Linked DNA regions of Homo sapiens. The protein of the gene in region 1 interacts with the protein of each later gene in a pairwise test. Each region holds a gene or a part of one and is shown in the gene's direction. Other genes may lie near its edges. The genes, in order: AQP7, PLIN1 and MEP1B.

Region 1 (10,032 bases):
GCTATGCTGTGGGAAGAGCCTTAGCGGTGAGTGTCTCCCTCTGTCCATGCTCCAGCCTTCTCTCTCCTCCCGTTCAGGGAAGCACTGGGGCATCCTCTAGCTGGGCTAGGAGCCAGGACACCTGGGTTTGACTCACGCTAGCCCTTGGGCTGTCCCAAAAGCAGAAGAGACAGTGTCTGCTCACCCAGCCCAGCCTGGCCCAGCCTGCACCCCAGGGACCAGTGCAGGCATGGGAGGGTTCTCCATCAACCCAGGGAGAGGCCCAGCATCTAGGGAGTTGCCACTCTCCCTGGGGCCCACATGTCCCACCAAGCCTTCCTGGCTGAAGCTTAATGCCCGTGGGTGCCGGTACCCCAGACCCTGACCACACAGATCTCTGCACAGGCCCTTGCTGCAATCACTGTTCTCCTGGAAAGCTGCCAATTGAATCCCACCTTCCCACTGGCTCACCTGGACATTTCAAAGCTGCTTTCCTGCTGAAGGGAGGGGCTCATTGTGAGCATTTCCTAGGGTCTTTGCTCCCTGTTTGCCCTTAAGGGGACAACTATGCATAGAGAGGCCTCAGGATTTGGGCAGAGATGAGGGAGTCGGGAGGGTCTTTCAGGGAACGGCTGGCCTTGGCCTATGTGGAGGCAAGCAAGGAGGCTGTTCCATCAGGGAGTCCCCAGCGTGAGTGGGGAGACCGGGCAGTCACACTACACTGGGGCTACCTCCTTTCTCTGGCTGAGCAGGAGAGTGGAGAGAGTGCAGCTTGCCCGGGGGAAACTGAGATGGGCTCCCTGCCCGCCCTAATCCCCCTGTTCCCGACCCACAGCCCCTGACCAGATCAGATAGGGCACGTTCCTGCATGGAGCTGCTCACTTACTGGGACCGTGCTGACGCAGGCAGGGAAATATTAACCTGGAAGAATGGTCGCATGTTCACGTGTGCACAACTTGGGGAGTGTGTGTGTGTGTGTGTGTGTGTCTCACTACAGAGAGGCTTCCGCGTGCAAGACCAGACACACATAAGCAGATGCATGTGTGCGCACATACACACATACACAACACACACACACACACACACCTGTCCATCCACACAGGCACATGCTCACATATAGGTATATACAAAGACACAAATGCTTCTCACACATGCAAATTTCTTCAGTGTTGTCTCCCTGGCTGCTTCCGTTAATAAGACCCCTCTTCCTTCAGGAAGCCTTCCCTGATAGCTCCAGCTCATACTAGAAAGTGACAAGTCTGAGCTCAATCCCTGGTTTCAGATGCCAAGTTAGGCAGCTCCATATAGGCTCTTTTAGGATGGAGTAGGCCTAGGTTGGAATTCTGGGTTCTCGACTTCAGGGGATCTTTGCCCTTGGACAAGTGGCTGTGCCTGATCCTGTCTGCCTTGGTCTCCATCTGCTCTGTCCTGAAGGCCCATGGATGATTCTGAGAAGGATGAGAGCCTGGGCGGGGGGCGAGGGGGAGTTCTGGTAATTGGTGGGTGTGAGAGTTAAAGACCTTCCTGGGTCCTGCCTCTGCCCTTGCCCCTCCCCAGCCTCGCCGCCTAGTAGGGGAACCCTGGTCTCCTTGGGGTGAGCCAGAGCCCTGGTCTGGATGTTCTAGTTCTAGGTGATCTTGGGCAAGTTGTTACCTTGCTCTGAATCTGTTTTCCTACCTGAAAAATGAGTTTGGAAGGAGATGCTTACTTGGGTGGGGCTTAAGTGTCTTTTCTTTTTGGGGCATTCTGAGAACCTTCATGGCTTCAGATGATTCGAGAGAGACCAGGGCTCCTTGAGGGACCTGCCCTGCCCTCCTACCCCCACCCCTGCGCCTGGAACCAGAGTGGCTCCTTCCTTGCTTGTTTATACCATGGGCTCCTGAGTTATGCAAAGGATTCCGTGGCTCGAAAGAGTCGGAAAAACCACAAGTGTAAAGCAGCGTGATGAAAAGCAGTTTTTGTGATAAGTTAATCCAATGGCATGTTGATTGAAACAAATAATTAATCAAAATGTTTAGTTTTTGTGCGTGTGTCAACACTTTGGGGGACATTCGGGGACAGTTTTTAGCACCTTTAGTCATTTTTGTTTCTTCATTCTGATATTTTAAAATTTCGATTTGCATTTTCATCCTTAATTGAGTTTCAGCCAATTGTGTTTATCCCATGTTGTTCACAATAGAGAAGTGTTGGGTCCATTTAAAATTGGAGACAATCTAAACGCTCATCAATAGAAGGATTCCTTATTATATAATCTCCATCAGGTGGAATGCTGTACAACAGGCATGAGGTGGACATGGACCTACTGTCATAGAAAGATATTCTTAACAAATGTTTGAATGAAAAAAGTATTTTAGACCAAGTGCGGTGGCTCACGCCTGTAATCCCAGCACTCTGGGAGCCCGAGGCGGGTGGATCACCTGAGATCAGAAGTTTGAGACCAGCCTAGCCAACATGGTGAAACCCCATCTCTACTAAAAATACAAAAATTAGCTGGGTGTAGTGGCTCATGCCTGTAGTCCCAGCTACTCGGGAGGCTGAGGCAAGAGAATCACTCGAATCCGGGAAGTGGAGGTGGCAGTGAGCCAAGATTGTACCACTGCACTCCAGCCTGGGTGACAACAGCGAAACTCTGGCTCAAAAGATAAAATAAAATAAAAAAGTATTTTGTTTTATTTTTATATATTTATTTATTTTGAGACAGAGTCTTACTCTATCACCCATGGTGGAGTGCAGTGGTGCCATCTCAGCTCACTGCAACCTCTGCCTCCTGGGTTCAAGTAATTCTCCTGTCTCAGCCTCTTGAGTAGCTGGGATTACAGGCACCTGCCACCATACCTGGCTAATTTTTGTATTCTTAGTAGAGACGGGGTTTCACCATGTTGGCCAGGCTGGTCTCGAACTCCTGATCTCAGGTGATCCACCAACCTCAGCCTCCCAAAGTGTTGGGATTACAGGAGTGAGCCAATGCACCTGGCTATATTTTTATTTGCTAAAAATAAAACTCTGTGTGTGTGTGTGTGTGTGTGTGTGTGTGTGTGTGTGTGTGTGTGTGTGTAGGTCCTGGACAGTCACAGTTTAAGCATCAAGAGGGCCTGAGTTTAGACCAAAGGTATACCAGGTATAAGGTTGTGGCAAATATTGTTTCTTTGAAATTTAAATTTAACTGGGCATCTTATATTTTATCTGGTAACTCTACTCAAGCCCATCCTATGAAGAAAGGACCCCGGGTGTCCCCTCCCTCTCTGCCCCCCAACTATCTCCACTGGCTCAGAGACCCAGAGACCCCCCGCCGCAGGCTCTGTGCAGACTAACATGCTTCACAGCTCTGACCCAAACTCCCACCTTGGTGGCCCCTTTAGCTGCCTCTCTTCTCTCTGCAGTTGAACTTTCTGCCTCCTCAGCCTCTGCTTCTTCAGTGCTGTTGCCACCCTCTATCCCCACCAGCTCATCCAGGCAGCTGTCTGCAAACACCTGCCTGGCCAGCCCCTCCCAGCACCCAACTCTGGGGCAACAGCCCCCTACTGGCTCCCATCAGCCTCTGGGCAGCCCTGTGTCTGGGTTTCCAGCTCCTTCCACACCCACTCCTTCTTCGTCATCCTTCTTCCCCAGAATCCTGGCCCTGGCCCTTGCCTCACTCCCTGTGCTTCTTGGGCAGCCCCAGCAACTCTAGTGCTGAATGTCCAGGGGCTGATATCTCCTCTTCTCTTTCTCCAGCTAGACTCCTCTCCCCAGCCCAGGCCCAACTGCGCCTCTGCCTGCTGGATGCCCTGGGGCCTCAGGGACCTCAGGTTGACCCTGTTGCTCTTCTCTTTGTTTAGAACCCTTTGCAGGCTCCTCAGGCCCTCGGGTTAAAGTCAGAACTCCTTGGCCTGGCTGACAAAGCCCTTCATGGTCTATCCCTGCCCACTTCCGCAGCCCTCTGCAAGTCACTCGCAGTTCCCAGGTTTTCTCACAATCCCATCAAGCTTCAAATGCCCCGGTGCCCCATCCCCCTGCTCGTTTTGGAAAACTCAGTTCCCACGTCACCTCTAACGGAAGACCCTTGTACCCCTCCAGCTTGGGATAGCCCCGTCTGTATTCCTTCCAGCCTATCTGGTGTGTCCTAAGTCACCTGCTGCTTACCTGTCTCTGCCGTGAGACAGATGGGACTGTGTCTTCTCCACCTCTCAGTCCCCAGGGTCAAGCCCTGTAAAAGAGCTTAGAGCCTGATCTCTGACCCCAGCATGGATCCCAATTCCCTCCCTCACCAACCTGACACCAGCCCATTCCAACTCTGCCCAAGTGCTGACCTCATCCAAGACCCCAGATCCACTTCTAACATGACCTCATCCCGGCCCTGGGAGCACACATGGGAAAGGAAAAAAGGCAGGACTCTCCCATTTCCAAGCGTGCACCCCTCCCTTCCTGAGGAAGAAAGGCTGAATCTTGAGCCCACGTAGAATCTGCAGAGGGAGGCCGGGCGCAGTGGCTCACACCTATAATCCCAGCACTTTGGGAGGCCGAGGCGGGTGCATTACCTGAGGTCAGGAGTTCGAGACCAGCCTGACCAACATGGTGACACCCCGTCTTTACTAAAAATCCAAAAAAACTAGCTGGGCTTGGTGGTGCATGCCTGTAATCCCAGCTACTTGGGAGGCTGAGGCAGGAGAATCACTTGAACTGGGAGGCAGAGATTGTGGTGAGACAAGACTGTGCCACTGCACTCCAGCCTGGGCGGAGCGGGACTCCGTCTCAAAAAAAAAAGAATCTGCAGAGGGAAGTTAGTGCCTTACAGAGGGCTTCTGACTAGGAAGCCCCGGGACTGTGGCCGACCCCTTCCTCTCCCTGCCTCACCCCTGCAGAAAGATCTGCAGAAAAAGCTGGAAGGGGTGGGAGGGTGTGTGCAGGGGTGGGGACTGGGGCTATGCAGGTTCCAGACCTGGTCTTTGGCACCCTCTACAGGACAGTTCCATTCCCAGACCTGAGCTTTGGACAACTGAATCTTATGCCCCTTCCCACCCATGGAGCCTGGTGCCGGAAGTTCCCAGGACTTACCCACCGTCCACCACGCCACATAGCAAGCGTCCTCAGTGTCTGCAGACCAGAAACACCTCCCTTGTGTCTCAGCACTGGGCCACCTGCTGAAACCCCAAACTGCCTGCCCCATTGTTTGAGACCCAGTCAGGCCTTGGCTCCAAAAGTCCTCTGGGACTGCTGCTGGCCCCCAGGGTCTCTCCTGACTGCACCTCGGTCCCGGAGCTCCCACACCGCTGAGCCCCGAGCCCGATGTCCCGATCCAGCTCTGGGTCCTTTACGGGGGCCTTGCTGGCCTTTCCTAAGGGAGGTGTTTTCCCGAGGACAGGTGGACTGCTCCTCAGACTAGGGGCCCTCGGAGGGCCAGGCCTGGGCTTCTACCTCCTCTCGCAGGCTGGTGTTTCTCTGCAAATATGGCTCGTGTGTCCTCCTTCCTCTCAGACTGGGGGCCCCTGAGGACTGGGCCTGAGTTTCCCTTTCCCCCTTCACAATGGGGGTTCCCTGAGGACTGACCCAGGGCCTCCCCCGTCCCCTCCACCTGGCTGTTAATCTCCAACACTTCCACCTCCAGTCCTATTCTGCACAGCTCTCCCCAGCGCTGGGGGCTCAGAGGCCTCTTCAGCCTTCCCCAGGGCTGGGGCTCAGGGAGGGCTTCCTCAGGCGCTGGCCCCAGAGTCAGGCTGCACATTGGCTTGGAGGACAGGCCTTTCCTCTGGGACTGAGAGGCCCAGAGTGCCCACCCAGAGCTCCACCTCTGACCTCACAAAGGCCTGCTTCAGAACTCGGTCTCCACGGCACTGCTGGCCGGACGAGGGATGTTATTTTGGGCAGTGCATCTGGACTTGGTTCAAGTGGCACCAGCCAAACCCCTGCCTTACTGACCTCTCCCCTGGAGGAGCAGGAGCAGCGCTCGAGGCCGCCCTGGGAGAGCTGAGAGGCAGGCTCTGGACTGGGGACACAGGGATAGCTGAGCCCCAGCTGGGGGTGGAAGCTGAGCCAGGGACAGTCACGGAGGAACAAGATCAAGATGCGCTGTAACTGAGAAGCCCCCAAGGCGGAGGCTGAGAATCAGAGACATTTCAGCAGAGTGAGTGGGGCTCCAGGCAGGGTGGGGATGGGGCAGCCTCCTCAGCGCCCAGATCTGGAAGGGCCATTCCCTGGGTACCATACAGGGAGGAGGTGACTGAGGGATTGTTTGGGGAAGGAGCCCCGTCTGGGAGTGGAAGTCCCGGCTTTCTTGTTATGGTGCAGTCCTGTGTTGCTGTGTGACACAGGCACATACACCCTCTCTCTGGGCCTCAGTTTCCTTACCTGTAAGTTGGTTGTTGGGAGGACCAGCGGTAGAGCAGAGATGGCAGGGATGCACTGAGCTGGGCTGTCAGCAGACCATGGGGGTGGGACGAGGAGAGAGCTGAAGACCACCGGCAGTGGACCACAGCGGGAGGCGTGCAGGCAGGAGACGGGTCAGCTGCCGGCTTGCTGGAGTCATTCCTCCCACGCAGTCCCCTCCTGAGGGGCTGGAGCTGGGGCTGGAGGGTTTCGGCAGTCAGGGCTGGAGATAAGAGTCTGTGCTGGAGCTAGAGGGAACTGGGCTAGAGAATCAGGAGGACAGACAGGGTGAGGGGACTTCGGGCTACCTTCATGCTGTCAGTTAGAGATAAAGATAGGAGTACAAAGGGGAATTTTTGGGTGAGGTACACGGGTGAAATGAGTTTTCAGGGCCTCATCCTGTGTGTTCACCTTCTGTGTGTGTGTGTGTGCATGCGTGCATGTGTGTGTGTGTGCAGGTCCTGGACAGTCGCAGCTTAAGTTAGCAGCAAGAGGACTTGAGGTTAAAGGTATAGCACGCAAATATGAGGCTGGAGCCACTGAGTAGAGGCTGAGGGCATCTCCACAGTCCAAAGCCGGGCTGCAGACACGGAAGGTCAGCAGGAGCACTGGAGGGTCTGGCCTGGGGCTGGGGTCCTGGGGCCAGCATGGGTGGGGTGGGGCTCCAGGGCGTCGCCTCATTGGCTGAGCACCGCTCCTCCCTCCCTGTTCCTTGGCTGGGTTAAGGGAGTGGCACTAGCAGGAGCTGCCCCAGGGCTTCTCCCCTGGGGACCAAGGTCTGATGGAAGTGTGGGGCCAAGTTCTGTGTCCTCCAGCCCTAGTGACCTCTCTTTGGCTCCTCAGCATCTACAAATCTGAAAGACAAAACATGGTTCAAGCATCCGGGCACAGGCGGTAAGTACCCCACCCTCTTCTCACCCTCCAGCCCCCTGTCCTTCACCCAGCCCACTTCAGTGCCCTCCCTGTTCCATCCTCAGCCTCTCCCTTGGGGCAGCTGTCCCCACTCGACCTCCTCCTCCCCACCCACCCACTCGCCTCTGAGGTCCCAGAAGAAGAGCATCTTCCACCTGTTGCCTGGGCTGGGTCCTGGGGTGAGGGGAGGCTCAGAAATACTTGGATGAGGGTCAAGGCATGCAGGTGGCCTTCAACTCAACTGCACTCAGCACCTCTCACCCTCTCAGGCTCAGCTGTCTTTGGGGTGAACAAGAGCCAGTCCTTGCAATGGCCAAGGCCCAGCCTTGTTAGCTTTCTGGCCTCCCCACTCCAGCCCCCTGCTCTCCCTCCTCCAGCCACACTGAGTTTCTTTTCAGGTTTTTTTTTTTTTCCGAGATGGAATCCAGTTCTGTCGCCCAGGCTGGAGTGCAATGGCATGATCTTGGCTCACTGCAACCTCCTCCTCCCGGGTTCAAGCGATTCTCTTGCCTCAGCCTCCTGAGTAGCTGTGATTACAGGATTACAAGCACACACTACCACACCCAGCTAATTATTATTATTATTATTTTGGTATTTTTAGTAGAAATGGGGTTTCGCCATGTTCGCCAGGCTGTTCTTGAACTCCTGACCTCAGGTGATCCACCCGCCTTGGCCTCCCAAAAGGTTGGGATTACAGGTGTGAGCCACTGCACCTGGCCTCACACTGACTTTCTTTGCTTTCTTCAAACATGCTGAGAGTCCTCTGGTGACTAGTCTCCCTCCACCTGAGAGGCTTTCTGCAGCTAACATACAGCCCACTCTCGTCTCCTTCATGGCTTTGCTCCAAGGCCACCTTCTCAACAAGGATTACTCTGGCTGCCCTATTTGAAATCACACCCCATCTCCAGCCCCTGCACTCCCAATTCCCCTCTCCTTGCTCTGTTTTTTTCCGTAGGAGCTGGTACCTTCGCTTATACAAATGTACTTACTTATTACATTTCATTGCTGTCAGCTCCACGCAAGCAGGGATATTTGCCTGTTGTACACTTGGACGGAGAGAATGAATAGTGCCACTCTGTTGACATCATTGCCTCTAGCCTACATCGCTCTCCAGGGCTTTAGATCCTGTTTCTAGAGACCCACTGGTGTCTCACAGGCAACTCAGCTCCTAGATGGAAACAGCCTCCTCCGCCCCCTGCAAGTCCACTCCTCCTGTGCTCTTGGCTCAGTCAGGGGTCCCCTTCTCCTCAGTTGCTCAAGCCAGAAGTCAAGGTCATGTCCTTCATACTTCCCTCTCCCCCATGTCTCACATCCAGTCACCAATCTCCTAAAATATCTAGAATGTGCACAGCTTCCACCATTCTTTCTACCACCACCCTACTCCCCCATGGCCATGTCAGGCCACCACCCGCCCATTCTTCAAAACCCCCTTCAGGCCTCACCTCCCATGCCTTCCCTGAGCTCCCCCAGTCCCAGGCTGCTTCTCTCTGGTGTTGTTGCCATTACCCATCTCTTCCATTAAACAGAGTGACCCAAGGGTGGAGAGTGGGTTTTGACTTTGTATCCCTGGTGCTTGACTCATAAGTAGATGCTCAACAAAAAAAAATTTTTTTTTTTTGAGATGGAGTCTTGCTCTGTTGCCCATGCTGGAGTGCAGTGGCATGATCTCGGCTCACTGCAACTTCTGCTTCTTGGGTTCAAGCGATTCTCATGTCTCAGCCCCTCCCCCCCCAGCTGGTATTACAGGTGCCTGCCACCATGCCCAGCTAATTTTTTTTTTATTATTAGTGGAAATGGGGTTCTGCCATGTTGGCCAGGCTGGTCTTGAACTCCTGACCTCAAGTGATCCACCTGCCTCGGCCTCCTAAAGTGTTGGGATTACAGGCATGAGTCACCATGCCTGGCCAACCAATGTTTGTTGAATTAAGAAATGTTGGTTAGCAGGTTGAATTGTTGGCTCGTGGTTAGTTGGATAGTTTATGGTTGGCTGGTTGATTAGATAATTAAATGAGTTAATAGCTGGTTAACAGGAGAATCAGTTAGTTGGTTTTTGATAGGTTAGTCAAAGGGTTAGTAAGCCACCAGGCGTGGTGGCTCATGCCTGAAATCCCTGCACCTTGGGAGGCTGAGGCGGGAGGATTGCTTGAACCCTGGGAAGTCTAGGCTTCAGTGAGCTGTGACTGTGCCACCACCGCACTTCAGCCTGGGCGACAGAGTGAGACCCTGTCTCAAAAAAAAAAAAAAAGGAAAAAGAAAAAGAAAAGAAACAGGCTTTTAGTGAGCTGTTAGCTATTTAGTTCCTTGGTTAGCAGATTACTTAGGGAATCTGGTTGGCTGCCAGTTTCTTGCTTTGTAGGCTGGCTTTCTTGGGCCCCTCTTCTTAGTCTGTACCCTCTCCTTGAGCTCTCTCATCTATGCCCATGGCTCAGATGACCATCTGTGATTTGCTGTCCTCCAAATGTGTCTGTAAGTGAGACCACATGACCAGCTGCCTCCTCACTGGCCATCCCACCCAAGTGTCTAGCGGGCTCCTCACACTCAACATGCCCAGAAAGGGCCTCCTTGTCCATTCTCCCACAGCTTCTCTGCTGCGCCCCACACTAGTCAGGACCTGCCCTAGCCAGGACCTGAGGGCATCGCTGAGCTGCCCCGCTCTCTTCCCTCTCTAACCAAACACCAAGCCTGTCAGCTTGACTGTGCTCTTTTGGCCATTGGCGCTGCCATCTCTGTGGCTCAGGCTGCCGCCACTTCTCCACCCATCTGTGGAGAAGCTGATGCTCACCCTGCCTCCACTCCACT
Region 2 (9,761 bases), on another chromosome or scaffold:
GACACCAGCCTAGCCAACATGGTGAAACCCCATCTCTACTAAACAGAAAAAAAAAAAAAAACTAGCCGGGCGTGGTGGTGGGCGCCTGTAATCCCAGCTACTTGGGAGGCTGAGGCAGGAGAATCCCTTGAACCCGGGAGGCGGAGGTTGTAGTGAGCCGAGATTGTGCAACTACACTCCAGCCTGGGCAACAGAGCAAGAATCCATCTCAAAAAAAAAAAAAAAGAAAGAAAGAAAAGAAAAAGAAAGAAACATCAGTCTTGACAAGTAAGCTATGGAGCAACTCATTGCTATGGGACCCTAAGGAGTGGGGCTATTGTGTGTGATATTCACCCTCCAACCTAATGCCTTCTGTTCAGGGCAAATGGGCCCCCAGGCAGCCTGGGCCTAGTTGGTGGCCATGAGAGGTAGGGAAGTGACCCAGTGGAGCTCAAGCCTGAGGGCTTCTGATGGGACCTGGGACTCTGTTTTGCAGCTTGAGGAGCGAGGATGGCAGTCAACAAAGGCCTCACCTTGCTGGATGGAGACCTCCCTGTAAGTAACTTGGGCTCATCTGTGACAGGGGATGGACAACTGAGGGAGGAGGAAGAAGCAGGGAGGGGAGATGCAGGGGACTTAGAGCAAGATATTCCCAGATTATAATCCTAGTTCATTGACTACCATGGCTTAGTTATTCTTGCCCTCACCACCTTTTGTAGGGGGCAGTTGGAGGATCTGGGAGGGGAAAAAAAGATGCCTATTAAAAATTAAGCACCTTGAAAAAAAGGGACAGAAATCCTGGCTTAGGGACGGGGGGAGTGGAGAGGAAGGAAACTACTGTTTAAACCCTGACGCAGAAGCCCATGCTCTGTCCACCACCCAGCTGGATGTGCATTCAGTGCAGAGCCACTGTATTCTGTGTCTCCAGCATCATTCATAACGGCAAATGTCACCTGTCGGAGTTAGACGGTGCACAGCCTGTGCTGCTGTGTGGGGGGAAGGGTGGGATATTCCATGTGTCTGGTGTTCTATCTCTGACCTGGTTTTCACTGTGACTTGAAGTGATTTGATACTTTTAGGGATGCTTGATGGCTCCTGGCAAGGCATCTCAGATTTGGGCACAGTTCGGATAGTGAAACTTAAAAATTATGAACCTGTGCAATATCCACCTTGCCCAAGTTACGCTTTTACTAACTCCTGCACTAGGAATCACTTTGTTTTGTATTGAATCATAGAACAGAGAGAGGCGTAAAATGGTCAAGTACATGGTTAAGCCATTCTAACAGACGGTGGTTTATTCCCTTCCCAGGATCTCTTTCCTCCTTCGGTTTTGTGTAAAACAACCTCTGAAGCCTCGTCCAAAATGTTAAAAAGAATGTTTTCTTGTTTATAGTCATAGTCTATTTCTAGTTCAAATTTCAAATTCACCTGCAGGATAAAAAACTAAGATATTGGCCAGGTGCAGTGGCTCACGCCTGTAATCCCAGCACTTTGGGAGGCCAAGGCGGGCGGTTCACAAGGTCAGGAGATCAAGACCATCCTGGCTAACACAGTGAAACCCCATCTCTACTAAAAATACAAAAAATCAGCGGGGTATGGTGGCGGGCGCCTGTAGTCCCAGCTACTTGGGAGACTGAGGCAGGAGAATGGCATGAACCCAGGAGGCAGAGCTTGCAGTGAGCTGAGATCGCGCCACTGCACTCCAGCCTGGGAGACAGCGAGATTCCATCTCAAAAAAACAAACAAACAAACAACAAAAAAAAACTAAGATATTGTGGGCTGCTCTGTCTTAGTGTACATGTAGGTGTCATTGATGGGGGTCTTTGAACTCTGCCTCCTACTAACAGAACAGGTCAGGTCTTCACTTTGCGAGCAAAACCATGCCACAGTGTCATATTCAAAGCTACAGAGAGCCTGAGCATCGGAATCTGACCTGGGTTTTTTTTTCTTTTTACTTTTGATATGGAGAATTCTCAACATTCATAAGAATAGACAGAAAAGAACATAGGAAGCCCCACGTACCCTTTATTAGCCCCGAAGACCATGAATTCGTGGCCAATCCCGCCTCGTCCTCACTTCCATTAATTCCCCCACTTCATGTTATTTTGAAGGTAATCCCAGGTAGGCCATTTCCAACTTGTGTTGGAATCCTGGCTCTGCCACTTATCAGCTGTGGGATCTTGGGTAAATCACTTCCTGTTTCTGATTGTCAATCTCCTCATCGACTCAGTGTTGGTGACAGTGCTGACCCCAGAGGATGGCTGTTAGAATTAAGTGAGCTCATGTCACCAAGGCACCCAGACCAGTGCCTGCAGCATAATGGCACCTGGCAAATGTTCTTTCCCTCTGCATGCCTAGAATTTGTTCTTTTAATTTTATTTATTTATTTTTTAGATATAGAGTCTTGCTCTGTCACCCCGGCTGGAGTGCAGTGGCATTGTCATAGTTCACTGCAGCCTCGGACTCCTGGTCTCAGACAGTCCTCTCACCTCAGCCTCCCCAGCAGCTGGGACTGTGTAGTCCACATGCCATCAAATATTAGCATGGCCAGCTTTTTTTTTTTTTTTTTTTTTTTTTGTGGCTCAGAGTGGTCTCAAACTCCTGGCTTCAAATGATCCTCCCGCCTCAGCCTCCCAAAGTGTTGGGATTACAGGCATGAGCTTCTACACTTAGCCCTAGAATTCATTCTTTTACTCAAAGACCAGTGTTTTTTCACTAAGGTTCCTAGGTGACCTAAAACTTAATTATGTGACTGCTGCCAAAGGTGCATTACTAACAGCACAGCACCCCGGAAATGATAAACGATTGTTCCACTACACCCAGCACGTGCAGATCGCACCCAGAGTGCTGTCTTTGAGTGTTGTTTGTTTGTTTTTTGTTTTTTGAGACAGGGTGTCATTCTGTCATCGAGGCTGTGGTACAGTGGCGTGATTATGGCTCACTACAGCCTCCAACTCCCGGACTCATGCGATCTTCCCGCCTCAGGTTCCCGAGTAGCCGGGACCACAGGCACACAGCACCATGCCCTGCTAATTATGTTATTATTATTTATTATTTTTTTTTGTAGAGACGGGGTCTCCCTGTGTTGCCCAGGCTGGCCTTAAACTCCTGGGCTCAAGCGAGGGTAGTATATTTTTAAGAAAGATAATGTAAAACTGTAGCATGTCCAGGAGAGGGGGTCACCAGACCACAGTGTGAACCATTTGTAAACGAAGTTAGGAACTGGAGCCATTTAACATGATGGCGGCACTTCTAAAGGGAGACATATTTGACTTCAAATATGTGAAGGGCCAACCCATGGATGAGGAAATAGGTTTGCTCAGTTTTGTTCCAGAGGGCAGAGTGTGGAACAGGGGGGTGGAGGCAAATTTCAGCTCAGCAAAGCTGTCCAACAAGGGACACAGGCCACTTTGTGAGGGGGAGAGCTCTCATTCAGGGAGACATTCAAATATAAGTCTTGGCTGGGCGCAATGGCTTAGGCCTATAATCTCAGTGATTTGGGAGGCTGAGGCAGAAGGATCACTTGAGTCCAGGAGTTCAAGACCGGCAAGACCCCTCCTCTACAAAATAAAAATATTAGCAAGGCATGGTGTCACAGGCCTGTAGTCCCAGCTACCCAGGAGGCACAAGTGTGGGGACTGTTTGAGCCCACGAGTTGGAGGTTACAGTGAACTATGATGGCACTAATGCACTTCAGTTTGAGCAACAGAGTGAAACCCTGTCTCTATAAAAAATAATAAATAAATAAAAACAAATACAAGTCGACCAGAGGAAGGATGGAAAGGATTCTTACTACAAAGTCCCCTAAGATTCTGTGATTCTGTGCAGTTGGGCAGATCTAAACCTACACATTCTACTAGGCACAGCCCTGACTGTGGTTCACGTATTCAGCTAATATTACTGTGCCATGTTTGGCCTACACTCTGGGGATGCGGAGATGACAGTCTACGGGGAGTGAGATGAACACACATAACCACAGCACGGTGTGACGAATGTGGAGAGAGCCAGGGAGGGAGTGGTTTCCGACGTGATGGAGGAGAGTCTGGAAGCTTCACAGGGGGAGTGCTGGTCAAGCAGAGTCTTGAAGGAATGGCATTCTGCCAGGCAGCAAGGGCTGTGGGAGGGAAGGTGAGCGTTCTAGGCAGTGGGGTCGGGATACACAGGCAGGGAGGCAGTACCCCAGAAAGACCAGAAAAATGTTTGGAGAAGCCACCAATCAAAGGTGGACTAAAACTCTAGACATTAACAACACTTGCTCTCTACCAGTAGGTATCAGGGGAGTGAGCTGAGGTGGGGGTGGGAGTGATGGGATCTGACTTGGTCCCTGGAGAACAGAGATTGCCTTGGCAGCTCTCCAGCACCCCGGATGGTGACCAGGAGGACATGGCCGGCTGACTCTTGTTTTCCCCATGGGCTCTCCCACGCTCCCATGATTGGGGCATCTAGAGACCTCTTTGGCCTTGGTTCCTCCCAGGTCGCTTGGACTCAGGCTAGTTGCACCATTGGTCCCCATGACCCCGGGGTCAGCTTCCCGGGAGGCTGGAGAGGGAGGTGGGACAACTTGAATGTGTTCCTTCCGCACCAGGAGCAGGAGAATGTGCTGCAGCGGGTCCTGCAGCTGCCGGTGGTGAGTGGCACCTGCGAATGCTTCCAGAAGACCTACACCAGCACTAAGGAAGCCCACCCCCTGGTGGCCTCTGTGTGCAATGCCTATGAGAAGGGCGTGCAGAGCGCCAGTAGCTTGGCTGCCTGGAGCATGGAGCCGGTGGTCCGCAGGCTGTCCACCCAGTGTGAGTCCTTGCGGCGCTCAGCAGCTGCCTGCTTGTTCACTGCCTACCTTCCAGTCTGTCTGTCCGCCTCTCAGTCTGTCTGACTGTCTGATAACTTGCTTGTCTGTCTGCTTAACTGCCCACATCCCATTGCATGGTCTTCTTATCTATGGCTATAAAGGTATACATACAGATCTCTTTTCTTCTATAGATGCCTATCTATGGCCCAGCTGGCATTTTCCTAGGATAACAATGATGGCCAGAGAATCTGCAGGGGAAGGGAAGGCAGAGCTGTGCAGGCAGTGGTGAGGGTAGGGCCCATGGCAGACCAGACACTCACTGTCGCAGCACAGGCAGCAGCAGCAGCAAGAACCAGCAGAGTCTGGCAGAGGCAGAGGCAGCCGGCACTAGGGGGCCTGGCAGGGCCGGAGGGCACGGAGGGAGGGGAAAGCTGGCTGAGCCCAGCAGCTGATGGTAGCGGCTCATGACGGGTGGGGGTGGCAGAGAGCCTCCAGCCAGGGCCCTAGAGGCAGAAGATGGCTCTCCTACTGGCCTTACCAGATGTGCACCACTCAAATTGTTCTGCCCCATCTGAAAATGTGGTCTCCAAGGCATACACAGGGCTGAGGGAAATCGCAGCAATGCCAAAAAGTCTGGTACCTTCCACCATCCTAATTACAGAATTATGGGTAGCTGAGGACTCCACACAGCAAACAGGAGAGGACCGATGTGAAGTAGGCCCAGGCCCTGTCCCTGGCTACAATCTCCTTAAATAGTTTCCTTGAGTCTCATTCTGCCCAACTGGAAGACAGCCAAGTCATCTGGGCTCTCTGCTGCTTGAGAATTTTGTGAAGAAAAATAAGGTATCTGGCAAAAGAATATATGAAAGAGTATGAAGAACTCTCCTTGAAAGCTGTGGCCCCCATTGGCCATGGCTGCAGAGCCGATGTCCCGGCCAATCCAGGCGGGATCCCCTTGAAGCAGGTGCATCTCTGATGCATGCCCACTCTCCGGGGGCAACTCTTTTCCCTTCCCTGTGACCCTCTTCGGACAGTTGACCATCTCAACACCTAGTGGTTAAAAAGAAGAGCATGGACGGCCTGGGGCCTGCACTGGCTGTGCTGGGAGTTTGTCATGTTGATAGCTAAGCAGGCCCAGCCCCAAGGCCTCACTGCCATCTGCTTCCCTCTCACACCTCTCTTCTCCCTCCTCATGCTCACTCAGAGCCCCCTTGCAGGTCAGGAAGGAAGAGAAGGAGGGAAAGAACGGTACTTGTTGGTGATTCATATAGCTCCCATCATTCTTCTTCACAAAAATCCTGCCAGGCAGGCACCATTAATTCACCTTTTACAAGGTAGGAAGCAGAGGCTCAGACAGGCTGTGACTAGCTGAGGCCACAGGCTTCTTAGATGTGGTCACTTGGCCTTTTGAGTGCAGGTCTGAGCGACTCCAGAGTTCCCACACAGACAGAAGAAACTGGCCCGGGTCTTGAGGAGTCCCTGCAGACAAGGGCGAAAGAGGGCAAAGGGCCTGGGGCCCAGAGATGCTGGGGAGGCAGCAGGCCTTGGGATTTGAGGGCTCCAAGTCACTTCCTTGGCACAGAAGCCACTGCTAGATTCTCATGGGGAGGGGCAGGGCTCACCCAAACTTGGCCCTTTCCTTCCAGTCACAGCTGCCAATGAGCTGGCCTGCCGAGGCTTGGACCACCTGGAGGAAAAGATCCCCGCCCTCCAGTACCCCCCTGAAAAGGTGAGCCCTTCCCACCTCTCGAAGCCTCCCTGCACTCTGTCGTCACCGCCTCTCAGGGAGGAGAGGGCAGGGGCTGCTGATGCCGTGACTGGAAGTCTGTGTCCCATGGTGAGCACCCTCCAAGGCTGGCGGAGAGTGCCTGCTCCCAAGGCCACACAACAGGCTCCTCTTCTCCCTGTGAAGCTAAACGGAGGTGGGGTTTCTGGGACCAGCAGGCACGAGCCCAGAGGCAAACCCAAACAGGAGCTTGAGGCGGGTCCCACTGCCTCCCGATACCGCACCCTGGGATCTGAGGTTCCATAGTCTGCCCTGGACCACTTGGCAACTACAGCTGCCTAAGATCATGAGTCACACTCATTCAGATCCCAGGAGTGTCATCCCATATCCTCAAGATCCAACCTTTTATGGACCATGAGATTGAAGGTCACTTTACCTGGCTACATATTTATTGGGTAGTTGCTATGATAAGGACTCATTTTTGGTGCTTCTGGGGAATAAGCTTCAGTCTCTGACCTCATCTATCTCACTGACCAACTATCTACCCTTCCCACAAACAGGTACTGAGCCCTACCCTATGCCCGGGGCCATCACCTATGCTTTATCAAGCGCTCTTCTTTAATCCACTTGTCAACCCTCTGGGATAGGGGTTGTTATCTCCATTTTACAGAGAGGAAACCAGTGTCTCCCCCACGGCCACACAGCCTTAAGTGGGGACAATGAGAGCAGGTCTATTCAGCTGTGAGACCTGTGCTCTTTGCTCCCCATTTTTCCAGATAAAAGGCAACATTTTTGTCACAAAAGAGCTCCCAGAATAATGAAGAAAAAGACAAATTATTTCAGTGCAGAACTTGTAGGAAGATCAAGCACACCTATAAATCAACAGAAATGCTGTGTTCTGAGGAAAGGATGGAGGAGATTCCTTGTGAGCCCAAGGGTATCAGGACAGGTGGCACCAAGGACGAGCCTTTGGGGTCATCCTCACAGGATGGGAGGGATCTTGACAGGCTGTGATGCGGGGTGAAGAAGCCAGGAGATCCAAACAGTTGGCACAGGGAAGGTTGGAGCCCTCTCCTCTAAAGCCCAGCTTAATTCCAGGTACCTAAATATCAGTACCAGTTCCCTGGGCCTTTAGGTGATGCCTTCCTGGGAGCTGGGCTCAGGCCACCAGACCCCGGAAGGGCAGCCCTTGTAGGGCCTGCAAGACCACATGCCTAACACCCCCACCAACTTCCCCCAGATTGCTTCTGAGCTGAAGGACACCATCTCCACCCGCCTCCGCAGTGCCAGAAACAGCATCAGCGTTCCCATCGCGAGCACTTCAGACAAGGTCCTGGGGGCCGCTTTGGCCGGGTGCGAGCTTGCCTGGGGGGTGGCCAGAGACACTGCGGAATTTGCTGCCAACACTCGAGCTGGCCGACTGGCTTCTGGAGGGGCCGACTTGGCCTTGGGCAGCATTGAGAAGGTGGTGGAGTACCTCCTCCCTCCAGACAAGGAAGAGTCAGGTACCTGCCATTCGGAGGCTCGGCCTGGGAGTGAGTTGTCACACACACTGCCTGGGAATCAGCAGGAGGTGGCTCAACCAGCCACTGCTCTGGAATAGGGAAGGCCAGTGGGATTTTCAGATGGATTCATAATCATTTACCCCCCCCACCCCCACCCCATCTGTAAAGAGGGAAAGTGAGTTGTGGAACTCACCAGTGAGTTTGTGGTGGACCTAGAACACCTACTTTCCAGTCCTAGACATGACCCAGATCTCTCCGGCCCCTCTCTGACCTGTTTTCTCTTCTTTCCCCCCAAATCCCTACCCAGCCCCTGCTCCTGGACACCAGCAAGCCCAGAAGTCTCCCAAGGCCAAGCCAAGCCTCTTGAGCAGGGTTGGGGCTCTGACCAACACCCTCTCTCGATACACCGTGCAGACCATGGCCCGGGCCCTGGAGCAGGGCCACACCGTGGCCATGTGGATCCCAGGCGTGGTGCCCCTGGTAAGTATCTGCCGTGAGCTCTGACTGACCCGGTGCCTGGGAGCCCTGTGGGCCTCCTAGTCCCTCCCATCCCCCACCCATCACCCCTTCCTGTCCTGAGAACATTCTCTCTTCCAACGTGGGCTGGGGCTTCAGTTCTAAGAGGACTTGAGAGGGGTAGAGGGATGGCCTTCCAGACCACAGGGAAAGAGAAGGGAGAGGATGTTAAGCAAGGGCAGGCCTGCCTTGCTAGAGTGCTCCTTCCCCACCACTCACTTCTATCTCCCCCATTTCCCTCTGAGTCTCCCACAAGCCCCAGCCTTCATACCCCCAAGTGGACCTCTTTCTATGGGTCTTCCCACCTATAAGACAGCAGGACCTCCATCTGCTATGCAAGCACTAGGGACTGTCATCCTTAAATAAACAAAGTATACAACCCATTTTGTCAGGGAGAGTGTACCCAGCACCAATGCACCCAAGGTGAAGTTGCCCTTTCTAGGCCCAGGGAGAGTTAACTCCCCACCACTCCCCACCACTCCCCACCTCCACCTCTCTGTATCTTAGCAGAAATAGGCTGGATGTTTTTCATAAGGAATTTTAGTAAGAAACTAAGGCCAGAAAAGAAAATAAAACAATACTAAAGCATAAAGGCCAGCAAACAAGATGACTACTTTTCAGCCATCTTTTGAGCAGTACTTTTAAAAGCATCATCAGGCGTGGATCATTCATTCAAGCAAGTGTTGCCCCTGCAGGAATACAGGAGTAGTAGCTCCCCTCTGTCCCCTGCATCAATAACAGCTGAGACTGAGTCACATGCCTGGACCCCGCCTGCAGTGGGCAGAACCTCACGTGCCACCATTCGCATGGAATAGAGTGGCATCCCCAAAAGCTGTGTAATAAGGAGTCTCTGTTTGTGGGGCTCCCTAGAGGTTTAGAATGTGCCTCAGGAGATACCAGCCCCCTTGCTCAGTCAATTTCTTCCCATGGGACACTCTGGTTCATTGAATTTTTCACTCTTAAAAGATCTGGGAGGAGTATCTACCAAAGCTAACATACATATATCCTATGGCCCAGCAGTTCCACTCTTAAGTGTATACCCAACAGAAATGAGCACTTAAGTCTCCCAAGACAAGTGAAAAATGCTCAGATCAGCAATATCCTTAGCTAAGAACTGGAAGCGATGATAATGTCCATCAACGGTAGAATGGGTAAATTACAGGAAATTCGTATGATGGAATATTACACAGAAATGAAAAAGAAGGAACTACTTCCATTTGCAGCAACATGGGTGAAACTTACACCA
Region 3 (9,761 bases), on another chromosome or scaffold:
GAAGCATGGTGGAAATTAGTTTTTGGCATGCAGAATTTGAAATGCATCAGAGTCACTGTGGTGGAGATACCAAATAAATTCTTGGTATATGACCTGGTCATTCAAGGTCGAGAAATGTTTGGGAGTTATTAGGATGTAAGAGATGGTTGAAGCCGTGAGTATGGATGAGCATTTCACACAGTGCCTTGCATAGAGCAGGTGCTCCATAGATAACTGGATTTTATTGATTTATCCTGGAAGGTTGTGTTGAATAAGTAAGAAGATGGTCGAGAATGAAACTCAGTGCCATTTTTTGGAACTGGTATAGAAGGAAGATCTAGTGGAAGTTATTGAGAAGGGGGAATTGGCCAGAAACATAGATAAAAAACTAACAGTAGGGTAGGGAAAGCCAGGGCAGGAGTAGTTAGCGGGGTTGGAAGCCATAAAGAGCACAGGGGGCATGAGGAGAGAAAGATGTTCATTGACTTTTGGAATTAGGAACCTGAAAGATTTTGAATATACATGTTTTTTTGGTTTAGTCTTTTGATTAAAAAATTTTTAAGTTCTTTTGTTTTAATTCTTCCTTTTTTTCCTTTCGTTCGTTCCTTCCTTCCTTCCTTCCTTCCTTCCTTCCTTCCTTCCTTCTTTCTTTTTTGAGACGAGTTCTCACTCTATCACCCAGGCTTCAACCTCTGCCTCCCAGGCTCAAATGATCCTCCCACCTCAGCCTTCCAAGTATCTGGGACCACAGATGCATGCCACCATGTCCAGCTAATTTTTTGTATTTTTGGTAGAGATGGGGTTTCACCAGGCAATCCACCCACCTCGGCCTCCCGAAGTGTTGGGATTACAGGCGTGAGCCACCACATCCAGTTATATTTCTTTTTTTAAAAAACTTATTCTCCTAAGTATGTTCCATGAAAGATTAGGGAGCTTTAATTTTATATATATCTTAGGCTATTTTTTTTTTGCCATGTATTTAACCATGAGCTTTATTTATTTTTTAAACAACATTATAAACAACATAATGAATGCCTTGAGGATAAGAGCTATTTTTCATCTTGCAAATTGGAGGATTACCATAGTCTCTGGCGTATTATATGTAATAACATTTTTGAAATAAATTGATAAGCATATGTATATATATAAATGAAAAATGTTAGGTAAAAATTCAGCCTAGATCCTACCATCCAAACTGTGCACATTTTTACATAGTTATAACTATGATGTCTTAAATCTTTTGTTCTAATTTTTTCACTTAATGTTATTGCATTTTTTCATATTGTATAGTCTTTATAATAGAATCAAACTTCAAATTTTTATAGAACAATTTTTTTCAATTATGTGATTTTGATTATTTCTTATTTAGAAAATACTTTTGTTTAATATTGTAGAATTCAACTTGTTTTCTATGTTCAAATTAAGAAAAGTATCCTTACGTTTCAGAAATGTATACCATCTTCAAATGACTCAGACTAAGAAAATTACTAAGCAAGGCCACTCTTACAGGTAGCAAAAATAAATACCTATGAAGGGTTGATTTCTGGAAGGCCCTATTACTCAGATTCTAGTAGGTCAAACTGTGAAATTCTACCAGTAGGGTTGTAGTCTTTGAGCTTGAACTTCAGATGTTACCTGGCTGGTAGATGCAACTTCCCTGAAAGGAGTAATACTCATAGCAGCCATTTATAGTTTCCAGGGCCTAAGTTATAATTCCTTGCCTTAGCACCAAGGCAGAAAAGGCAGTGGGGGAGGCTGAGGGTAAAGAGTTGGGGATGGAAATGAAGGGGAAGGTGCTAGAAACCTGAAGGGGCTACTAAGGGGAAACAATCCTGAACAGCTGCTTACTGAACTCCTAGGATTGCCAGCAACTTGCCTCATTTTCCAAAGCCTGGCATGGTTCCAAGTGGAGCTTTCTGCATCTATAACGCAAGGTTAACTAAGGCCCTCAGTAAATAAAGGCATATGGAAAACAAAGATCTTATCTTGGTAAAGGGCCTCAGTGTTTATAAAGCTTTCACGTGTTACTTTATTTATTAATTCAAGAAACTATCCTCATTAAGTTTTGATAAATGGCCTAAACTAGTATGCTCTTTTACATTCTGTTTAAAACAGTGATATGGTGGTCAGTATTATCATACCTTATTTGAAGGAAATATTACATTTGAAATAATGACCCAAATATGATACTTATAGGACAGAACATTTTGAACGTTAACAGCCATATGTAGATACACACACACACACACACACACACACACACACACGGCATACTATTTCAGGGTGTTCATAGACCTTCCCATCTCAGCGTCCTCGGATTAAAAGCCCAGCTGTGAGGCTTTAAATACATATTATAGCTTCTCAGATTAAGTATGTGGTGGCAATTTATTTTGATTGCCTGTGATCCAATGTCCAATGGATCCAATTTGTAATCCTCTATTCATTAAAATGATAAAAAGAATAATGATGAAAAAATATTTTGATGACATAATATTTAGTGAAAAAATAGTTGGTAAAATGCTATGTAGATGACTTTATTTTTTATAGAAATATTAACATATGTATGTTATATATGTATTCAAAGGCAAAATGTATGGTAAGGGTGATTGATTATTCCTGGATGATAGGATTTTAAATTTCTTTTTATTCATATCAATTTTTAACTTATTTATAACGATAGTGTATTACTTATGTGGTATTGTAAAAGTCTGAACTTAGTGCCTTTTACAACTTATGGATTTTAGGGTCTTCCCTATGTGAATCCTGTTCTTGATCTTCTTAGACCTGCCTCAACAGAGGCATACCAAGTAATCTTCCTTGAATGTCTATGCAATGGTTACTCTAGAAGGGAGAAAGGAAATGAACATTTGACAAATGCTAATTTTACTTGGAACTTCACCTTTACTTTCTCTTACTATCCTCACAATATCCTGCAAAGTTGATTTTATTTCCTCACTTAACTGATAATAACACCAAAGCTCCAAAGGTTGATTGAATTGGCAAAAGTTTTATGTCAAAAGTGAGTGGTGAGGATAGGGAAGAACTTAGGTGTGTCTGGCTCCAAAGTCCAAGCACTTTCCCCTCTGCCATACTGTCTCCCACCTCCTGGCAGGCTCCCATCTTTCACGTCACTAGGACCTGGCCCATGTGATGCCTCTCCATGTGCATCTGATACAGCCCGTTCCTCCTGGTCACTCACAAGTTTCTTTTCCTGCATGTTGTTTCTTCCACACCTCTGCCTTCTTTGAGCTCCATATCCATATCACTCTTATATCCAGAGCATTGGCTCTTACCCTTATTTTGGGCCCTGAACTCACTTGCAGACCTCATGAAAGCTCTCTCTAGAAAATGCACTTTGCATTTGTAGATATGCACACACACACATACACACTTTGCATACTATTTCAGGGTATTCATAGACTCTCCCATCTGAAGATCCTCAGATTAAAAGCCCAGCTGTGTGGCTTTAAATACATATTATGGCTTCTCAGATGAAGTACGTGATGGTGATTATTTATTTTGATTGCCTGTGATCCAATGGATATGTTCTCTGAGGTAAAGATGCATTTTTATTGTTTAGTAATGCACCATTAGTGAGTGAGTGCTAGAGAAATATAAGGCCAAATAAGGGATCTGAAGAATAAGCAGATACTGTATATGATATTCAATGGGTACTGAATTCTAATTTTTGTAAAAATAAAAGACTCAACATTCATGAAGGGACTAACTCATGATAAGCAATATATTGCAGTGGCCTGCTTCCATGGAAGATTTTTCAGTGGTGATTGTTTTAATAAGCTTATTTTTGTTTGTTTTCTTCCTTCAGAAATGAATGCTAAGGGAGTTATCCTCAATGCATTTGAACGTTATCGCCTTAAAACATGTATTGACTTTAAGCCTTGGGCTGGAGAAACAAACTATATATCAGTGTTCAAGGGCAGTGGGTAAGTTGCAGACTTAGTCTTCTAAGGCATCTAAGGAGAACTCTAGTGCCTGGGACATTACATTGCAGCAATCATCCTAGGCTCTGACCTTTAGGAAGGGGTGGGGACTTTCTTGCTAGTTGCTGGAGAGTAAAAAACAACTGGATCTAGTTTTTGTAGACATAGAAATTATATTCCCATACATGTAACCGCCTTTAGACAAAGTGGAAAGTGGATGGGATTGCATGCCATCAGACCCACAACCTTGTGAATTTCAGCCCGTTTGTAATTTACATACTCTTTATCCCTTTCAAGTAAAAAACATGTGTATTTATGTGTGTCCATGTCTGTGCTTAAGCTTATTTTAACCTAACCACTCTTATTTCTTGGGTTAAGAAGGCGACAGTATTATTTGTCTTGAGCTCAGCAATTCTGAGTGGTTGCTGTCCCTGTAAAACCCTTGTTAATGGGCACAGGCATAACGAGGAGCTCAAAGACTTTGAAATTCACAAGAAAAACCAGGTCTAGACCACCTTGAGGACGATTTGCTCCTATGTAATATTTGGTGTTAGGGCAAGTTCTTTAAAGATCACCTGGTCTGTAAGGTTTTTTAATATTATACAATACCTGGTATATTAGGCCATTCTTGCATTGCTGTACAGAAATACCAGGGACTCGGTAATTTATACAGAAAAGAGGTTTAACTGGCTTTCAGTTCTGCAGGCTTTATAGGAAGCATGGTGTTGACATCTGCTCAGCTTTTGGGGAGGCCTCCGGAAGCTTATAATCATAGTGGAAGGTGAGGGTGGAGCAGGCATGTCGCATGGCAAAAGCAGGAGCCAGAGAAAGAGTGGGGAGGGGGAGGTGCTACACACTTTTAAATGACCAGATCTCATGAAAACTCACTATCGCGAAGACAGCACCAAGCCATGTGTGGTTCGTCCCATGACTCAAATACCTCCCATGAGGTCCCACCTCCAGCACTGGGAATTACAGTTCAACATGAGATGTGAGTGGGGACAATTGTCCAAACTATGTCACCTGGGTTATGAGAGAAACGCACAGTGTTCAGATGTAAGAGCAAAGGTGGGTAATGAAGTGGGTAATGAAGTGGACTAGGCAGTGGCGATTCTGCCCTGAGACCTCAGATTGTAACATTCTCTTCCCCCTTTCTTGTAAACTCTCCTGTAAGCTGCTGGTCTTCAGTAGGAAATAGGCGGGTTGGGAAGCAAGAACTTTCCATCGGGGCAAACTGTGACCGAATAGCAACAGTTCAACACGAGTTCCTCCACGCTCTGGGATTCTGGCATGAGCAGTCGCGTTCTGACCGGGATGACTATGTCAGGATAATGTGGGACAGAATTCTGTCAGGTACATTTCTCTTTTTTTCCTATGTTTTTAGTTAAGGACTGAATTTCTAAGCATGTGTCCTCTCTTGTCATCTGTGGCAACTGTTAATAATTTTAAAACTTTGATGTTTTGATGTCTTAATTCATTCAGCTTGAACTCATTCTGAGTTATTGGAGCACTAGTATTCCAGAACCCATATGAGCTAGATATGCTCTAGAAACTGGTTTTGTGGTTCTTAAAGCATATTCAGTCCCACAATATGTTCATGAGTATTATGTGGAACGGAGTCTGTGGCCAAATTAGTTTTGCAAATCCCCAAGTCTTAGTCCATCTTGCACTGCTATAACAAAACACCACAGACTGGGTAATTTATAAAGAACTGAAATTTATTCCTCATTGTTCTGGTGGCTGGAAAGTCCAAAATCAAGGGGTGGGCATTTGATGAGGGCCTTCTTGCTGTGTCACATACCATGACAGAGGGCAGAGGTCAAGGGAGAGTCAGAGAGAAAAAACAGGACCAAATCTGTCCTTTTACAAGGAATCCACTCCTGCAGTAGCAAACCTACTTCTGCAGCAATGGGATTAATCCATTTATGAGACGGAGCCCATGCCCTAATTACCTCTCATTAGGCCCCACCTCCCAACACTGTTGCACTGGGGATTAGGTTTCCAATACATGCTTTTGGGGGGACATATTCAAGGCATAACACCTAGGTTAAAAGAAATTAGACTTACTTATCCTGCTATACTGCTCTGAGTGTTTATTGGGTTGACAGGAATTGTAAATCTCTAAGAAAAGGAGCATTTCCCAAAATGATTTGATCATGGTCTTCTTTTTTCTTTTTGCAGAGTAGCTTGTAGAGTATTTGGATTTATTGTTTCATGGAACAATTTTCAGTAATAGTTGAGTAGCATGAACTGTTTGTGATTTTGTGTTCAAAGTCACAAAGTCTTAATAACTATGTCTGACTAGAGCTCATGTTTTCCACATTCCACAGTGACACTCAGCTTCCTCATCTGTCCTGCCTGTGTGGGGCGAGACAGAGGAAAGGGCATTGCTATTATGTCTGAGGCACTGTGAGGAGTGCCCTATACAAGGTCCCCTGACACCACACTTCTTGAAATCACAGCTCTTGCTCTTTATCCCCCGACTCTGCTTATCTCAAATGCGGTCAGGCATAGCAGCAAACTAAAAGATTTCTAGAGAAACAGCAGTGTTTAGCTTTAATCCACAGCCACACTCCTTAGGATTCCCAAAGTCTTATTTTTGATCTAAACTTCTGCTCACATTTGATAACACATCTTTATGTTTTGGAGATCAGAACCACCTTAAAGTGTCCACAGAATCATTCCATTTCAAGTTGAAATCAGTTGCCCATTAGTATAATGCTAAATGGCCTGAATGTCTTCTCTAAATATATTCATTTTTGTTTTTTATTATTATTTTAAACTGACAAATCATAATTGTATATACTTATGTGGTACAGTGATATTTTGACATGTGTACACAACGTGGAATGACTAAAACAAGCTACTTAACATAGCCATCACCTCACTTATCATTTTTATGGTGAGACATTTGAGGTTTATTCTCTTAGCAATTTTGAAATATACATTATTATTAACTATAGTCATTATGCTTTATTTATTTATTTATTTTGAGACAGAATCTCGCTCTGTTGCCCAGGCTGGAGTGCAGTGGTGCGATCTTGGCTCACTGCAACCTCCACCTCCTGGGTTCAAGTGATTCTCCTGCCTCAGCCTCCCGAGTAACTGGGATTATAGGCGCCCGCCACCACACCCGGCTAATTTTTGTATTTTTAGTAGAGACAGGGTTTAAACATGTTGGCCAGGCTGGTTCATTGTGCTTTAAATACATCTACACCTATTCCAGTAACCATGAATTATGGTTAGTCAATAACTGCATGTCAATGCTTTTTAATGACTCCTCTGTAGGATAACTAGAAAGTTATCATTCCCAGGTTTCATCTCACCATCCCTTCAAAGCCTTCTTACTTCCATCTCCATCTACTGTGGACGTCCTCAGCCTGCCATCGTTGCTGGCCAATGCCCTGACTGGTTCAACAACACTTTTTTTTTTTTTTTTTGAGACAGAGTCTTACTTTGTCACCCAGGCTGGAGTGCAGTGGCGTGATCACAGCTCACTGCAGGCTCGACTTCCCAGGCTCAGGCAATCCTCCCACCTCAGCCTCCGGAGTAGCTGGGACTACAGGCATGCACCACCATGCCTGGCTAATTTTTAAAATATTTATTTTATTTTATTTTATTTGAGATGGAGTCTCATTCTGTCACCTAGGCTGGAGTGCAGTAGTGCAATCTTGGCTCACTGCAACCTCCGCCTCCTGGGTTCAACCAATTCTCCTGCCTCTGCCTCCTGAGTAGCTGGGATTATAGGTGCGCACCACCACAATGGACTGATTTTTGTATTTTTAGTAGAGACAGGGTTTCACCATGTTGGTCAGGCTGGTCTCGAACTCCTGACCTCATGATCCGCCTGCCTCGACCTCCCAAAGTGCTGGGATTACAGGCGTGAGCCACCACGCCCGGCCTTAAAATATTTATTAGAGATGAGGTCTCACTTTGTTGCCCAGGCTGGTTAGCAGCACTTTCTAGAATCCTCCTTTCCACGAGCAATTTTTACAGCCTTAGACTAAATGCCAATGTCCTAACTATGGGCTGCAATAGAACCTTAGATATGTTCAGTGTGACTGCTGGTATCACAGTTCTAAGCTTGAATATTATATTGTAAGATGGGAATAATGAAACTGTTGTTAGTTGTAGCAAAAATTGCTTGAGTTTATTATATTCTCCATTTCTAAGTGAGCAGTATTTGGAGTAAGATAAGCTGAATTTTGTGAACATCAAGTAAAGATTTTTTATTTATCCTTTAGGCAGAGAGCACAATTTTAACACCTATAGTGACGATATATCAGATTCCCTGAATGTTCCCTATGATTACACTTCAGTAATGCACTACAGTAAAACTGCATTCCAAAATGGAACAGAGCCGACAATTGTCACAAGAATCTCAGACTTTGAGGATGTGATCGGCCAACGAATGGATTTCAGTGACTCTGATCTCCTAAAGTTGAATCAACTGTATAACTGCTGTATGTGACAGGTTCTTTGAAATGACTTATATTTTCCGCTGTTATGTAGGAAAAAATGATGGTCTGTGCCATTTTGTCAAGCATTGGTGGGGTTTCTGCGATTATAGAGATTTGATATTCAGGAAATAAACAGAATAGCACTCAGATCTCAATCTACAACTTGGAAGCAGCATTTTTCTTTTCACCACGTCTGGTGTTGAGATCTAAAAACAAATTGGGTCCTGTAGGAATATGCCTCAGGCAAGTTTTTAAAGCTGTTACTAATTCAAACCTCGGTCAGATTGATACTCACACTTCCTTTTAGCCAAAATGATATGTCTAGTTGTAATATGAATGGGATCAAATAATCTGGATTGTGGCTTAATGATTCGAATAACTAGGGGAGTATAGACTCAGGTTTCTACAAATTAGAAAATTTTTTTTAAAAAAGACTTCAGGCAGGGAGCTTATTCAGATCTACAGAATTCATTACCTTCTTTGTAGGGGTTCTGCAAATAAAGAGGGATCTTTAAGCCACCATCATCCAGAATCAGCTAGGTGTTCCCTGTAATACCAACCTGGCATTTCTAATACTGTGATAAGTTCAGTTTTTGTTACTTAGATTATCATGTTGTATGAGTGTCAATAATTGTTTTTTGCTTTTTGTAGCCTCTTCCTTGAGTTTTATGGACTCGTGCAGTTTTGAACTGGAAAATGTGTGTGGCATGATCCAAAGTTCAGGAGATAATGCTGACTGGCAACGGGTTTCACAGGTTCCCAGGGGGCCAGAGAGTGATCACTCCAACATGGGCCAGTGCCAAGGTAACAGGAGTGAGATATTCCTAGACTGTATACTCAGTGGCTACAGCCACATACTTCTCTATGAAAGAATGGGATTTTATCTCTAATTTCTATCAGAATTATTAATGATTATTCATTAGGTTACTACTGAGAAGTAGGCCTTGCACCTGATAAAGACATTGTTAATTTCTTTGCTTTTCCTTCCTGAGTTTATTTTTCTTTCTACAAGTCAGAGCTGGGCTCTGTGATGCCTCTACCAGTGCGTTCCCATAGGAGAGTGTACCAGACTGGGCCTCCTGCAAGGCCTCTTATCTCAGGGGCAGTACTATTGTTTCCTAGAAGTTTGCAGAATACAAGAGACTCTTTCCAATGGACAGCACTAGGCTGCGAATTATTGTTTCAGAACTGTAGCTGGATGTGATTATATGCTCCTGTTACAAAAATATCTAAAAAGCAGAGTTTATTTAATTTTCTTCAGATGCGTATCCTTTTCCATTTTCATTTTGTTTTGCCTTAAGTAGTTATTTGGCTACAAGGACCAAATTTTTACGTATTTGCTTATTCTGGCATCAAATATGTAAAACTAGACTTCAGAACT

Evidence for each region.
Region 2: the proteins of AQP7 (region 1) and PLIN1 interact in binary tests that used the Homo sapiens proteins (3 or more experiments, as listed by UniProt).
Region 3: the proteins of AQP7 (region 1) and MEP1B interact in a protein complementation assay, tested with the Homo sapiens proteins (one study listed by IntAct).

What each region holds. Positions count from the first base shown.
Region 1 is NC_000009.12:33,398,420-33,408,451, reverse strand, and holds the start of AQP7 (aquaporin-7), read left to right. Parts: upstream 1-5,883; 5' UTR 5,884-6,079; intron 6,080-6,303; exon of another isoform or gene 6,304-6,931; intron 6,932-7,164; 5' UTR 7,165-7,189; coding exon 7,190-7,215; intron 7,216-10,032. UniProt on the Homo sapiens protein: Aquaglyceroporins form homotetrameric transmembrane channels, with each monomer independently mediating glycerol and water transport across the plasma membrane along their osmotic gradient. Could also be permeable to urea.
Region 2 is NC_000015.10:89,668,218-89,677,978, reverse strand, and holds part of PLIN1 (perilipin-1), read left to right. Parts: intron 1-475; 5' UTR 476-489; coding exon 490-534; intron 535-4,564; coding exon 4,565-4,769; intron 4,770-6,414; coding exon 6,415-6,497; intron 6,498-7,734; coding exon 7,735-7,999; intron 8,000-8,306; coding exon 8,307-8,479; intron 8,480-9,761. UniProt on the Homo sapiens protein: Modulator of adipocyte lipid metabolism. Coats lipid storage droplets to protect them from breakdown by hormone-sensitive lipase (HSL). Its absence may result in leanness. Plays a role in unilocular lipid droplet formation by activating CIDEC.
Region 3 is NC_000018.10:32,199,088-32,208,848, forward strand, and holds part of MEP1B (meprin A subunit beta isoform 1 precursor), read left to right. Parts: intron 1-3,805; coding exon 3,806-3,923; intron 3,924-5,094; coding exon 5,095-5,273; intron 5,274-8,164; coding exon 8,165-8,383; intron 8,384-9,031; coding exon 9,032-9,184; intron 9,185-9,761. UniProt on the Homo sapiens protein: Membrane metallopeptidase that sheds many membrane-bound proteins. Exhibits a strong preference for acidic amino acids at the P1' position. Known substrates include: FGF19, VGFA, IL1B, IL18, procollagen I and III, E-cadherin, KLK7, gastrin, ADAM10, tenascin-C.